2 linked regions of the Homo sapiens genome follow. Changing the gene in region 2 together with the main gene of any one other region gives a genetic interaction. Each region holds a gene or a part of one and is shown on either strand. Other genes may lie near its edges.

Region 1 (7,072 bases), on a different chromosome or scaffold from region 2:
GGCGCAGGCTTGACTCCAGCAGGGCTTCGATCTGCTCCTGGCAGGCCCGGAGGCAGTCCTGAGAGAGAGAGGGTGGGGAGAGGTGGGAAGAGGGGGTCCTTAGAAGGGGCCTGCAGCGAGGGCCCCTTCCCAGGTGCCATGACCCGGAAGCCTTTATAAGAGCAAGACTAAGCCAAAAACTGTCCCTCGGCCCATGCTGCCTCCTCTGAACCTGAGCGAGATGTGGGAGCTGCCATCACCTGTCAGGACACTCAGGACCAAATGCCTCCACCTCCCACCTGGTCTCTGGAGCCACAAGACACCAGATGCTTGCCCGCCCACCCTGCACACCCCCTGCCCGTCCCCATGTCCAACAGCGCCTTCACCGCCTGTTCCCACTGGCCGTGCCAGCTCCCTGGGGAATTCAGTGCCATCTGATCTGGACAGGAGGCCCTTTGAACCCTGCCTTTTCAGCCTTTTCAGACTTAACCTCTCCATGTGGCAGCCCTTGAGGTGAACCTGGCCTTCCATGATCAATGGCTGTCGAAGCCTTGGGCCGTGCATGACTGAGGATGAATGCTGGGTGGCCAGGGGGACCTGGACCATTGATCCCTCCCCTCCATCCTCTCCCGCTCAGGCCTGTGCCCCGGGGCCAGCCATCAGCCTGGCACAGCATGCATCCACCCACTGCGGCCACTGAGGTGCTCGCCCTCGGGTGGAGTGCGACGGACGCTCCTGGAAGTCCTGCACCTCCACCCTCTGGGGCTCCAGACTCCCTTGGCAGCGTCCACACCACACTGTCAGTGGGAAAGAGCAGCCGTGAAATCTGGAACGCCACGCCCAGCCAGGGGCCTCTCCTAGGCTCCACCACGGGCAAGTCCCACGCAGCCTGAAGTGGCTGCTTACTGCCCGGGGGCTTCTGGATGGAGAACCGGCTCCATGTGTTGGGGCTGTGTGTGTCCCAACTGCCAGGAAGCCACGCTAGGGCTTCAAGCCAAGTCTCTAGGCAGCCCAGGAAACAGACCTTCCACAAGGAGCAGGGCTGGGCCACAGCCCCACCACGTGCCGCACAGGTGCCACTTAACTCCCAACCAGAAGGGGCTGGACAAAGGCATAGCACGACAGGCGATGACCCAGGCCAGAACGACTTTTAGGTGGACCACTGAGGTCACGACATTTTAGCGCCTGTACCTTTATAGGGAGGGCTTTCCTCTCCCGCCCCTCAGATAAATTCTCATCATGGCAAATGAAGCTGGCCGGGCTGGCTGCACAAACAGTCCCACTGTACAGATGGGGAAACTGAGGCCAGAGGCCTGGGGTGAGATACAAGACTCCTGACGTTCAACCTAAAACACCAGCCAGCTTCAATTCTCAGCCCCAGGGGCCTGGCAGCTCCATCCAGGGATTCTTCACCTGCGGCCCGTCCCTCGCCCATGACCCACTCCAGGGTCACACATGCAGCTAGACTCCAGGACCTTCCTTCATTCCTCTGGCCCCACAGCTGCCTGCAAGGCTACCCCGGTGGACAAAGCTGTTCTCCCACAGCCAGAAGCTCCAAAAAGGCAGCACGCTCCTCCGCGAAAAGTCACTGGTGTGTGGCACTGCGCACCCGATTTGCACAGATGGACATTCCACCCACCAAAGAAAATTCTAGAACACGCCCTAGAAAATGCAGGGGCCTCTGCTGTGGACGGTTTTTCTGAGTCTGGGCTCAGCTACGTTGGTCACTAGCTGATCAGGCAGAGTGGACTCCGCCTCGGGTAACTTCACCCCGTGTGTCTGTCAGCTGTGAGACGTGTGCCTCCAATCTAGTTAAGATGGTCTCTACTCAAATAAGGGCCAGCGCCCAACTTCCCACAACTGCCCGAAGACAGCAACATCCCAGGGCAGTCACCCCTGGCGGGGAAGCGGTTTTCACTCAGGGCGTGGAGTTCGAAATGAAAAGTGCAGACGCGAGTTTCATTTTGATGGAGGGGCTTTCTCTTTGCTGGGCTTCTGGAGGCCTCGATGGTGTTTCTGAGCCATTTTCCTGAGAGAGCTGCGGGCTGCTGGCCTCCACCCTACAGCGGGTGAGGACACCTCACCACCCCCAAAGGATAACACGGGGCAGGGTGCAAGGGAGGCCATGGCCGAGAACACAGAAGGGAGGCCCCTGCCAACTTCGGTGTCCCACGGCAAAAAAGCTTCTTCCTCTTCCGAGACACACATGGGCTGGGCAGCCGCTACTCCCAGTGTCCCCGGGACAGAGGCACCACTAGGCAGGGGACAGGCAGGTGGACCCTAGATAGCATCTGCTGAGACCCGTGCGGAGTCCCCGGGAGGCTCGAGGGCAGACCACCAAGAGGCGGCCCAGGCCAGAGCCAAAACGGGTCTTGCAGGCCCACCCAGCCCCAAGCTGGGGTCAGGCGGTCACTCCCTCACACACCGCGGGGCCGGCGGCTGACCCGGCCACCTCTCTGGTCTAATTTGGTAAATGCCACAAACCCTTTTGATTGTCATTTTAATTCTTTCTTTAAGAAAAGACTCGGGAATAAAACAATGGCATTTTTAAGAAGAAAGACACAGTCATCCCAGGGTTTAACAGCAGCAGCCTCTCAAAGAGGCCGTAAACAACAAGGCTGTCTCTATCCGCCCGTTGTCCGGTGTCTCGGACCTCACAGGAGCCCTTTTCAAGCATCTATTTATTGGCCACGCACATTGTGGCCCAAACAAAGCTCGCCTGGGCCTAACCCCACACACCATCACCACACAGACCATTGGCTGGGGCCGCCTGGGGCCTCCGTCCCGGACGCTTCGCCCAGAAACTCTACGGCTCCTGGAAGCCCCAGGGGACGTGAGAAGGCTGTGAGGACCTCCCAGCCAGTCAGTAAGTTCTAGGAGCAGTGGAAGAAGCCGGTGCCCTGTCAGTCTGTGGCCTGGGGTCCGAGGGGCCCAGCCCCAGCCCCAACCTTGTCACCCTTGGGGGCCTTGGCACCAGCCTCGGCATTTCCGTGGCACTAGGTGTCTCCCCCTGTAAGCCCCGGCAAGGCTGCCTGGGACATCACCCTCACTTACCGGGTCACACTTGATCACTCTGGAGAGGAAGCGTGTGAGGCGGTAGTAGGACAGGAAGTTGTTGGGGCTCCTCAGGTTCAGGCCTTGCACTGCGGCCACCACGCTCCCCGCTGCCACCATGGAGGGCGGATTGGAAATGAACTTCACATCTGAGGCAGAAGGAGAGAGGGAAGGAGGCTGTGAGCAGGGGACCCTCTCAGGGCCCCCGTGATCCGGGCATCCCTGTGTGCTGGCTCTGAGCAAGCGGCCCGGCCTGAAGGGAAGCACTCGGTATCTGAGGCTCCACATCCAGGCCCTCCTCAGCCTCCAGCCATCCCTGGGCACTCGGAGAGCAAGAGCCTGGCCCACGGACCCTCCTGGAACGTCAGCCCCACTGTTGACTCAAACATAACCAAGGAAAGAGAAAGCCACGGGAAGACACAGGACAGGTGATGGGGACATCACTGCCTTCTCATCCTTTTAGCATCTTGAGCCTTGTGAATGTTATCACGTATTCACAAAAACAAAATTAGATGACGCAAATATGAGGACGTAGAGATGTCGCTTCTATGACCCTAACCCTCACCCCAAGTACCTGCCACCCCCCAGCAGCAGGGATTGCAGACAAGTCATATTCTGAAGGGACATCGCATGGCTGAAGCCTAGGCCTCCACCCGGGCCAGGCCACGGGGCTGCAGGGTACTGATGAAGCCATTCCGTGTCCCTTGAGGGGTAAGCCCTGGCCGGCAGCCTTCAGGGCGGCTGTGGTGTGGCTGCGGCTCAGGCCCTGGCGCCAGGAGAGCCCGGCTTGGCTCACTCGGGAAGGAAGAGCTCTTCCAGCAACCCATGCCCCTTACCATGGGACCATGACTGTCACAGTGACCTTCAGAGCACAGACCAAGTACACCCCAACTCCACCCGGGCCCTCTACTCACAACTCTCCTATTTCTGGCCGATGACAAAAACACTTTTCTGGGCCGTCTGATGTAGCCCAACAATTCCAGTGACTTCCCAAGTAAGGGAAGAGGTGTGGGGTTCCTAGCACCAGTCACCATGGGACACCCCTGGAGGACTGGGCCGGGAGCCGGGCCCCAGGAGGGAGCAGCTTTCCCAAGAGGGCACCAGTGCCCTCACCTGGGGCTTCCTGGGGACTGTCCCGCACATCTGGGCCCACTTCCAAGAGGGACACCAATCTAGGGCGGCCCATCAGCCTTTGTGGTCTGCACAAAACTCCCTCTGGTCACTGCCAGATACTGGGCTCATCCGCCTGCCAGGCTGCAGTAGTGGGCGTCTCGGGGCCTCTGTGACTGACCTCCTAGACAAACAGCAGACTGGCTCTTTCCACAGAGAGCCCTGCCACCAATTACGTCCTGGTTTGTGGCGGGGAATGCCGGCCTCCCCTCCTCAGGGCAGTCATGCGCCTACCGTGGACAGGTGGGCCAGTGTGGGATGTGCCTCTTGGCCTGGCCCCCACCCCAGCGGAGCCTGGGGGCAGCCTTTTGTCACACCCACGAGGAATTCTGCACAGGAACCAGGGGCCCTGGGCTGGGAGCCGGACGTCGGCAGGGATGAGTGTGGCATCTTTGTCGGCCCCATCGCCTCATCTCGCGCCACTGAGCGCCCGGGAACAAGGGGGGTCGGGGGAGCTGAATGGGAGCCGACCCAGGCACAAAGGGAGAGGGGCCCCCACGGGCCGCCAGGGGTGTGGCGGCCCATCCGAGACTTCATCCCGAGAGAATAAACAACTTCGGCCTTGTTAAAGAGAGGGCCGCCGGCGAGGGGCCGGGAAGAAAGGCAGCCACCCTGAAGGGGAGACAAAGCCGGCTGCTGGGCGCCGTAACAACTTAGAAAAAGAAATCCTTAACGAGCCGAGCCACCTCTTTTCCCCTTTAAATGGGAGCAGTTCCACCCAGTCTGAGAGCCGGGAGCCATGAATGAAAACCTTCTCATTGAGGCAAATCAGAACCGCACACAGAAACCGCTTCTGCAGGGAGCGACAGGTTCTAGCTGGCTCCGCACCTTGTGCACCCCCCCGTCTCCAGGGGCACACACAGCGTGGAGTCACTGGGGCCACGTTGTTTCAGAAGCTCGTGCCCCCACCCCAGTGTGTGGTGCTGTCTGTGCTTAGATTAGGAGCCACCCAGAATTAGACACCAAAGCTCCAGGATTTGACCCTATCCGCTGCCTGGTTGTAAAGGGAAGTGACAGCTGTCCCGGAAGCTCCTTGGCACTGGACGTTCCTCACCTGGCCTCCCACGGAGCCAAGGGCGCACCTGCCCTGAAACCCCCATGCGTGAGTGTATGCAGCATGTGCACACCTGCTGGGGACCTGGGGCCAGGAATGCCTAGTGCAGGGAGAACACCCAGCATCACCTTTAAATGTAACCTTTGCCACGTGGAGGGCAAAAACACCTTCCTAGACTCTTTCCCACGCCTCCACCTCCTTCAACCTGTTTCTGACTTTAAGCAGCCGTAAGTCACTCTTGTCTCCACAGATGTCCAGCAGGAACAAGGCACTGGCTGCTCAGTTACGTTCCATGGGGTGGCCACGGGTCAGGACCCGGAGCACTTTGCAGGGGTGGGTCCCCTGGTCTCCTGCCCCTCCCTCGGGACCCACCCTGGAGTGGACTCCACAGTCACTGAGAGCACGTGCACAGCTGGGTCCCCAAGTGTCCCTCCTCCTTCACCCACCGCTGGGGGCGCCTTCGCAGACAAAGGGTGTGCAGTAGTGGGAAGGACGAGAATCTGCACCTGCCCACTGCCTCCCACTAGCACCCAGGGGTCCTGGGAGGGGAGCTCCACTGCTGGAGCCACCCTGTAGGGAGGCTGTGCAAGAACCACGCCCCACGTTCTCTCCAGGAAACTTTGCATTTCTCTGAAGCCACTTTCAGCTCCATAAAAGGCTGTCTGGAGTCTCCGGAGGCCTCTCTCCTCTGAGGAGCACCAGCCAGAGAATGCCTCCCTGTCTGCCGCATGCCCCCCCACCCCAGACCCATCCAGACTGGTCGACATCCTTGGCATCTTCATCTGCCCACCTTGGGGACTCGCTTGGAAACGTGGGGGAGGGGTTCATGCCCCAAGCAGGTGGAGGAGGTGGGGGAGGCCTCACGCCTAAACCAGAACCCATTCTGGAATACCGGCTGCGGGCTACCGGTGTCAGAAGGGAGCTCTGAAGTAGGCTTGGGGGGCTCTGCCCTCTGGGGAGGGGAGAAGATGCTACTGCCTCTTTGATGCCCCGTGGGCCTTGTGGCCTAGGTCACCCAGAGTGAGCCCCCAAACAGATGTGACAACTGAGGCTTGACCAAAGGTGGGCCACAGCAGAGCTGGGTGGGATGGGGCCATGCTCCCCCATGAAGGTAACCAGGCCTCCTGGGCCAGGGAAGGAGGCGGTCACAGGGGGGTCAGAGGCAGGGCTGGGGACAGCAGGAGGCGGCACCCTGTGTATGTGCGAGTCTGTCCCCACTGGGTTCTGGGGCCAAGGCCATGTCAGGGAGGGGCCTCTGGGGCCATGCCAGGGGAAGTGAGGACTGGGTGCTTCTGCTGCCCACGGTGGCGGCCCAAGCTGAGAGTGCTCTGAAGCGCCCCCTCAGGGCTCAGCTGAGCCCGGCTGGCTGCCGGCACCCCTGGCAGGGCCTCAGGCAGCCGAGCTCCTCTGCTGGACACCCCTGCACTCGGCTGCCCAGAGCACGTGGTGCAGGCAGGCCGACAGCTCTCCCCGCCCCTGGAGGCGCCTCTGGCAGGTGGCCCAGCCTGGGAGAGGCCAGGAGGGGGCCTCTGCAGCTCAGGCTCCTTAAGGACACAAGAAGGGCTGGAGGTGGGTGGAGAAAGGAGGCGGCCCTGTGGCCAAGGTAAACCCCTTTCAGCATGGAGTGGCCACAGGCTGCCTGGCCTGAAGGACGAGGCCAGAGTAACGGGACACAGGCAGGCTGAGCCGTCCACACCAATGCCCAAGGTACTGCATGGTGGCCGTGAGGGAGCAAATCTCCCTCCATCCAGCGCGACAAACAATCCAGGGCCTCTGCTCACCAGAGCTGGAAGAGCGCTCTCCAGCGCAGGAGGG
Region 2 (7,912 bases):
AGATAATTAATACGATCTGAATACAGCCACACCAAATTCGTGGTGTATTTTTTAAACTTTACTGTATTTTTTTATTTTTTAAATAGAAGAGCTATAGAAAATAATACATAAGGTGAACAGGAACTTTGATCCCCTGTTTCTTCCAAAGGCAGTAATGACAATAAATACATATATCACTTGAAGCTTGGAGTATTTGCACTTTGCAGCAGTAGTACCCAAAGGGCTGCCTTTTGTAAACACGACAGTCACTGTAAGCACAGTGGGTTCGTTTCCCGGAAATGGTGAAACTGGCGTGCCTCTAATCATGAAATATGGCATTGAGCTGGGCACTCATGACTCGCTCATGATGTGAATGGCTATCGAAGGACATAATATTGTCTATGGGGATCTCGCAGCGAGGGGCAGCGGTGCCTGAGAAGATTGATCCGTGGCTTTGGGCCCCTGCCAGTGTCGCTGCAGGATAGTGCATGGTAAAGGCATAATTTTTCTCAAACTCGGCGGACGGTTCGTGTTTGAAAGAGAAGTTGCCATTGATGCTGAGCGGCGGGCTGAGGGGTCCATCAAAGGAAGGGCTGGTGCAATCAGTCAGAGGGCTTTCAAAGAAGGGCTCCAGCGCTGCGCTGTAGGCGTGCGGCGGAGGCTTAACGTGGAAGACATGGGAGCTGTCCATGGTACCGTAAGGCGGACTGGGCAGCCCAGGCGACTGGTAGGAGTAGGGGTGTACAGGGAAGGAAGCGCTGGCCGTCGGCAGGTGGGGGGGCATGTCCTGGTTCTGCTCAGGCAGAAAAGTCCGAGGATTGAGTTGCAGGCAGCCCGCAACCAGGTTGGTGGTGGGTTGGGATAAGCCCTTGCAAAGCGTCTGAACGAAGGAGACCAGGTCTGGGCTTTTGCCTGAGCGCAGGATCTCCGACAGAGCCCAGATGTAGTTCTTGGCCAAGCGCAGAGTCTCGATTTTGGACAGCTTCTGCGTCTTAGAATAGCAAGGCACCACCTTGCGCAGGTTGTCTAGCGCCGCGTTCAGTCCGTGCATGCGGTTCCGCTCCCGGGCGTTAGCCTTCATGCGTCTCAATTTAAAACGCTCCAGGCGAGCCTTAGTCATCTTCTTCTTTTTGGGGCCGCGTCTCTTGGGCTTTTGATCGTCATCCTCCTCTTCCTCTTCTTCCTCCTCTTCCAGGTCCTCATCTTCGTCCTCCTCCTCTCCCCCGTTCCTCAGTGAGTCCTCCTCTGCGTTCATGGTTTCGAGGTCGTCCTCCTTCTTGTCTGCCTCGTGCTCCTCGTCCTGAGAACTGAGACACTCGTCTGTCCAGCTTGGAGGACCTTGGGGCTGAGGCTCGCCCATCAGCCCACTCTCGCTGTACGATTTGGTCATGTTTCGATTTCCTACATTCAACAAGGGAGAGGCAAACAGAAAGAAAAGCAGAAAAACGCTATATTCAAAAGCCAGATACGCCTTCAGCTTCCACTCCCTAAACCTGTACAAATGCTTGCGAAAAGTACCTGCCCATTACAAAATGAATGCCTCTGAGAAAAAGTTAAATGCAGTGTTTTATAATGGCGCGTGCGTGTGCCCCGCTAGTACGTAGGAGTGAGGACAGGACTGGGGGAGGGTAGTGAATATGTATATGTGTACACCACTCACGCATATGTGTTTGTATCCTAGTGATTAACTTAAATGTGTTTATGGTGGTTGCCCGACAGGATAATGTGTGTGGAAATGACTGTACATTTCAGCGACTTCATGTTTATCCAAATGTGTTCAAAGTTACTCACAACTCCATAAAAAAAAAAAAAAGCTGTAAAATCACACATTCTACTTCCATTTCTGTCCTGGCTTCCAGATACTTAGCGATTTAAGTTGAACAGCCATTGCGTAATTTACTAATACTGGCAGCGATTTTTAAGAAGATTACATCGACGGGATACTGAAAAGCAAATGCAGAAAGGAGGAAAAATAGTTTCCACCAAATTGTTTCACCATCAATGTAACATTTGGCAACAAAAGTGGACAGGGTCTTCCACCCCTCCCTCGCCTTTCTTTTCTTGCCTTCCATCTCTGGCCCACCGCTAAATTTCCACCTTGTACAAAAGCGCTAGCTGCAGGGCGAGGGCTGGGGGCGCGGCGCAGAGCGCTCTCCCACGCGCCGGGGATCAGGTGCGGAAGGCTCCTCTCTAATAAACAGCCCATTGAAAGGGCCGCCCGCTCTTTATTGGGGCTTTTCAAAGTTCGCCTCAAACCTCCCTTTAAAAGATTGAGTAATTATAATGGTCAGCGATTGGCAACCGCGAAGTTGCCGCTTCTAGTAAGGAAAATAAAAAGCCTTTAGTAAAACAACTGAATTTCTGGCTCCAGTAGTGGCTGCTGGGGACTTGGCCGCCTCTGGAGCGGTAACAGGTAGCAGGAGTGAGTCCCTCTCCCTTTCTCCACTTTCCCCCCTCTCAACTAAACTATCTCTGAACCTGATTTATTTTCCATGGTGTGAATACTCAAGGTATCCATGTCCCTTTCATTCACTGAAAACACAGCTTGACACTCCCAATGTGCGTAAAATACATGCACACAAAATATATATTGATAACATAGATTTTTTTTTCTTACTGTAAGAAGTGAGAAAGTGAAGTCATTATTGCTTTTGGGACTTTAAAATCAGCACTAGCAGATAATCATAGTTACCGTGCATTCTTTTAAAAAATCCAAGAAGCTCCTATGCTATCCACAAAAGAAACCCAAATTTTTAAAATTTAAATTAGAAAGCCTGCAGGGGGTACTTGAGTGACACGACTCATTATGTGTGAGTACTTATGGGCAATTATGGAGGGGGATGCTGGTCTCAATACACATACACACTCTCGCAAACGCACACATACAGAATATGTAGGTTCATCAGTCTTCAGTTATTGCTTCTATTCTGGGGCAAAAAAATGAAAGAACTGTAATTACCTTTGTTGTTAGTAGGTCCTGAGCAGTGATAGTCTCATAACCCTGGGGCCTCCGGACGCCGCGCCTCCTGCGTGGGCGAATTCCTCGTGTCGTGGCCGCGCGGGCGCTCAGGTTATATAGCCCAGTTAGTGATGCTAAGCGCGGGCGGGGCCGCTAGCTGAGGGGCTAGCAGGTCTATGCGCCTGACGCCTGCGCACGCGTCCAGGCTGTGCGCTCCCCGTTCTCCCCTCCTCCCCACTTCTCCCCACGCCTTGCTCGTCTCCCGCCCTCCTCCGACAACCGCTCCCCTCACCCTCCACCCCTACCCCCGCCCCTCCTCCTTCCTCCCCGGCATGCGCCATATGGTCTTCCCGGTCCAGCCAAGAGCCTGGAACCACGTGACCTGCCCATTTGTATGCCGCGGAGCGCTCCATTCCGGCCCCTTTGTGGCCAGAAGAAAGTGGCCCATCTGTCGCCAGTTAGAGACTCCGCGGACCTGTTTTTACCCGCAGGAGAGATTAACCCTTTCAGGCGGCAGAAGGGACGGGGATAGAGGGGGGAGGGGATTTGAGGGAAGGAAGGGAAAAGCTAATGTTAACTAGGTCTAGATCAGAGCGAGTGGCCTGCTTTCGCGCCGGAAGTAGGACAGAGGTGAAAGAGGCAGAAGCGGGGAGACTGAGGCACGCAGTGAAGAGTCCTCGCTCCTTTCGATTTCTTGTCCTGACACTGGCATCCAGAGCAGCATGACTCCTTGCCCTCTCTGAAAGGCCCATCCCTTGGCTTCTTCTCCTTGGCAGACGCTTTGATCATTGGCGCCAAAGGATGGCTTCTCCTAATCTCCGTCGGCCCCTCTAAGCAAACATATACGCCATATAAAAGCGGCTTCATCTGTAAACGCAGCGTTGAGATTAGTTCCCCAACCTCCCTAACCGGATCGTCCTCTCCCAGTTCCTTCAGTACAGAAAAGTTGTACCTGCCATTCTATCCCTACCATACGTGCAATTCTTCATGTCCTGACCTTCAGCTACGACTGTTCCTCCAGACCCTCTCACTACGTCAGTCCCCACCTCCATCCCCAGGATCTTGTCCTCAAAGCGAGCTAGTTCTCGCGAGGAGGCCTTGGTTCCATTGGCCTTTGCGCTCTCTTATGTGGGAGCTGGGGACTTCTTTGACGGTTGTATTCTGCCTTTTAACCATGGCCACTGGGTTGCTGGAAAGGGCACCCTCACTCAGCCAGTCCAGGGACGCTTCTGGTTCCCTGGCCAGCCCGCCCTGGACGGCCTCGGCTCTCTAGTCCAGGCATTGACCACAAGTACGGTGGTGGACACCTCGCCACAGCCGGACCTGCGCTCTTGCTCCCCTCAGTCTCGGGTCTGTATAAGATACTTGATTCAGACAAGCGTTTTCAAAGAGAAGATGCAATGGGCCTGTGCTGAACGGGTCTTTCCGATCTCTTTCTAGAAACGCCTTTAGCACAACCCCGGAAGGATTAATGGCTGCGAACTCCTCCAGACTTCAAAGCCTCTGATTTGAAACTCCCAACTTGAAGGTCAAGCAAAGACCACAGAAATTCTCGACCAGTTCTGAAGGAGCCATATTGTTGCCCAAATAGCAATTCTTTACTCTTTTCGAACAAGGGTTTTCCAGAATAATAGATTTTAAAAAGAAAGAAAGAAACTGGCCTGTCTACTCGTTCTTTCCCAGCTTTGCCTCTAATCCTTCATTAACTAACTCCTTACCCCCTCCCAGACCTGAAACCCTCTGCAATAAATACCTCTTACGTGAATTGCTTATTTAAAGGCAATTGCACTAAACATCCCTCGAGTTTGCAAACAGCGACAGGGTTGAGAGGCTGGATTGGGGTGCATCTGGGAGAGGGTGGGGACGGGAGGAGAGAGTAGGGGTAGAGGAAGAGGGTCCTAGCCAGATCCCCGGTGTCTGAAGGTAGCAGGTGCAGCCTTCCCTGCACAGTACTAATCTAAAAGGGGAAGAAAAGAGTTGTGCCACCGAAGCGTGGCGTGAATCGTTGTGGGGTTCTGGAGTTTTGCTTGCTTTTCTACATTCACTTGGCTGACAAAGCGCATAGGGGAGGATAAAATAATTCACCCAGGAGCCTGGGCCCAGGATTTACCCCTGTACTGTCTGTATCTTCAGTGTTGGGCTAAAACTCGAGGGCGTCGGAGTACTAGCCCTTAGAAGATAGTACACAGCCCGACGTTTGCGGCAGGGCCAGGTTAAGTACTGCCCCTCACCCGGCAGCTGCCCCGACTGGCAGCACACTATGCCGCAGGCATATGCAACTCGTGCCTAGGCTCTCATTTTTCCAACTTTGGGGAGTTCCGGAGGAGAACTGGGGACGGAGTGGGAGAAAGGACTCCAGCTAGCTTCGAGGTCAGGGGTAGCCTAGAGGTCCCTCTGCTAAATCCTTGTCCTCACCCCCAGAAAGCAGAAACCTCCAGTTCGCGACATCCTGTGCAATACAGGAGAATTATGGTGGAGTCAGATGTTCTTGAGCAAGAGGGACGCCCGAGTGTTTTGCCAGACGGAGACTCAAATGCGTAAAGTGCGGGAATTACTAGTCTGTTTCCTCCCTCTACCCTTGATAAATTCATCTCTAATCCCACTGCGCGTTGTTCGCTCAGGCCTGGAGATTTGTACAAAGGAAAGGCCACTCCAGGATGTTTCAGAGACAGGGCTGAGGTTGGGTCTCACGGTAGCTGTCCTTGGGCTTCCCATCCCGCAGCGCTCCGATGTGACCCTCCTCTGCGCGGAAAATTTCGACCCGGGGCGCCGGCATCGCGACGCTCAGCCAGTGCCCGCGAGGCTCCCAGGAGATGCGGGGTAGTAAGGCCCTAAAAAGAGGAGCCTGGACACGGCCTGGATTGAGGTGCGTTTTGTTTGGGGTTGAAGGCGCGAGAAATTGGGGCGAGAGAAGAGAGTCAGCCGGATCCCGGAGAGGACAGAGCTGAAGGCGCGGCGGGGCTTAGCACTGAGGACCTTCTCCGCGGCCCCGCTCCTCCTCCTTATTTTCTTCTCTTTGGACTTGTTTGGACGGTTGCACACTTTTCCCCCTCCTGATTCCCTAAGTTTTTTGTCTCTCCCCTCGCTGCCCGTTAGCTGTACTCCCCCAGCTCCCGTCCCTACTGGGCGCTGCAGGCTACCCAGCGGCACGCGAACCGCACGCGCGGACAACAAAAGCCTCTTTCATGACTCACTGCCCTCGAGCAATGCCCCAAATCTGCCGCCTCCCGGGTCCCCGCTCTGAGCGCGCGGCGCGGGCCGGGCGTCCCGGCCGTTACAGCGGCAGCCGGAGCGCCCGCGGGAAGGGGGGCGGGAGGAGGCGTGTGGCCAGGGGTGGGGAGAGGGGAGTGTGGCCTGGGCCGGGCGGAGGGGAAGGGGGAGGCATGTGGGAGGATGGGGGTGGGGAAGGGATGGAGGCGTGTGGCCCGGACGTAGGGGGTGGGAAGCGTGTGGCTGGAGGCGAAAGCGGGGAGCGGGAGGTCGGGGGCGAAGCATTCACAGGGCCAAGATAAAGCGCAGGGGCCGGGCCGGCGTCCCTGGCGGTGACCTGTTTCTCAGGGAAACAGATGCTCGCTCTTGCAAAGGGAGGTTTGCGTTCAATGAAAGGATCAAGTGTGGCCAGGGCAGCCCGGCCGACCTCGAGAGGTTCCCGCGTCCTCTCCCCGCCCTGCCTAGGAGTGGGGTGTCGGGGCCTGGGCGCGGGAGAGCGGAGTGAGGGGGCCGGGTGGCTGAGGGGCCCGCGAGACCGTGGGGCTCAGGGGCCGCAGGAACGGAGGGCTGAGAGCTGCAGGTCCTGCACAGGCTGGGTAGCTCGGAGGCTCTTGAGAGCTTCGGGGGATGAAGGGGGGTTGATGCGGGTTCTGACCAGACCGCCGACGCGGCGCCTCCGCCCCGGGGGAGGCAGTTGGGCTCCCGGGTCCTGGCCTGAGGCTGGAGCTGCCCAGGCTCGACAGGCAGGCGACCCGGGAGAGCCAAGAGCAACGAGAGACGCTATTAAAATGCCTCGCCGTCGCCCCGAGCGCAAAACCCATCCTCCCCAAATCTCCTGGGCTTGCGGCATAATCTTAATTAAGATAATTGATTCATATTGCACCTGCGAGAACGGAAAAAATTGATTTCAACCCCCAACCCCACAAATCGCTTAGAGCTATTGGATGGAGCACGACGCGACTGTGATTTAGGGAGTGATTTAGTGCCGGGCTTCCCCAGCTCGGCCTGCCTGGGCCTTTTTATTTATTATTTATGCCCTCCCGGTCCCGACGGGGCTTTGGTGGCTCCTTTGTCGGCTCCCACAGGCCTTGGAAGGACTTGTCTCTGATTCCCTGTCAGGATCCAGGGGCTTTCCTTAAACCATCCAACACTCAGAATCAACAACGTAAAATCAACTCAGTAGGAGTATCTTGGCAGTCGTAGGTCACGGGCACAATTGCTCAAGGCCTCGTGCGTCCGATGCCCTGTGTGTGCAAAAGTGTGTGATTGCACTTGAATGTACGTGTGTGAATCCGTGTGTGTGCAAGATTATGTGAATGTGTGTGCAAATCGTGTGTGCATATAATGAGTGTGTGATTGTTAGTGTGTATGTGAACATATGAGTGTGTGCAGGTGTGTGTCAATGAATGTGAATGTGTATGTGAAAGTGGGCATAAGTGGATGGGTGTGAGAGTGTTAAGTGTATGTCCACGGTCGCACCTGCTTTCGGGTGAGGAGCGTGAGCAGAGGGCGCACACCTGTTTCCCGGGGATCGAGGAACAGCTTGCTGTCCAAAGGGGATCGCAGGGCCAGGGAACTGACAAGCACACGCTATTTGCCAACCTTTGCCTTAATAGAAAGAAGCAAGCAAACAAAAATCCTCGGTAGCTGTGTGTAGCTTCAGGAGTGGAGAGCCGAGACACACCGACGGCGCCGGAGCGTCGCAAGAACAATGGTTGCTGCAGTGGGTTGGGAGAGAGGACCCGGACAAGTTCCTAAAGGCAC

What was found.
Region 1: of NEUROD1 (region 2) and CCND1, changing one suppresses a phenotype caused by changing the other (phenotypic suppression), as found in Homo sapiens cells (one study listed by BioGRID).

Annotation. Positions count from the first base shown.
Region 1 is NC_000011.10:69,644,104-69,651,175, reverse strand, and holds part of CCND1 (G1/S-specific cyclin-D1), read right to left. Parts: intron 3,183-7,072; coding exon 3,034-3,182; intron 59-3,033; coding exon 1-58. UniProt on the Homo sapiens protein: Regulatory component of the cyclin D1-CDK4 (DC) complex that phosphorylates and inhibits members of the retinoblastoma (RB) protein family including RB1 and regulates the cell-cycle during G(1)/S transition.
Region 2 is NC_000002.12:181,677,492-181,685,403, forward strand, and holds the start of NEUROD1 (neurogenic differentiation factor 1), read right to left. Parts: upstream 3,027-7,912; 5' UTR 2,939-3,026; intron 1,381-2,938; 5' UTR 1,370-1,380; coding exon 299-1,369; 3' UTR 1-298. UniProt on the Homo sapiens protein: Acts as a transcriptional activator: mediates transcriptional activation by binding to E box-containing promoter consensus core sequences 5'-CANNTG-3'.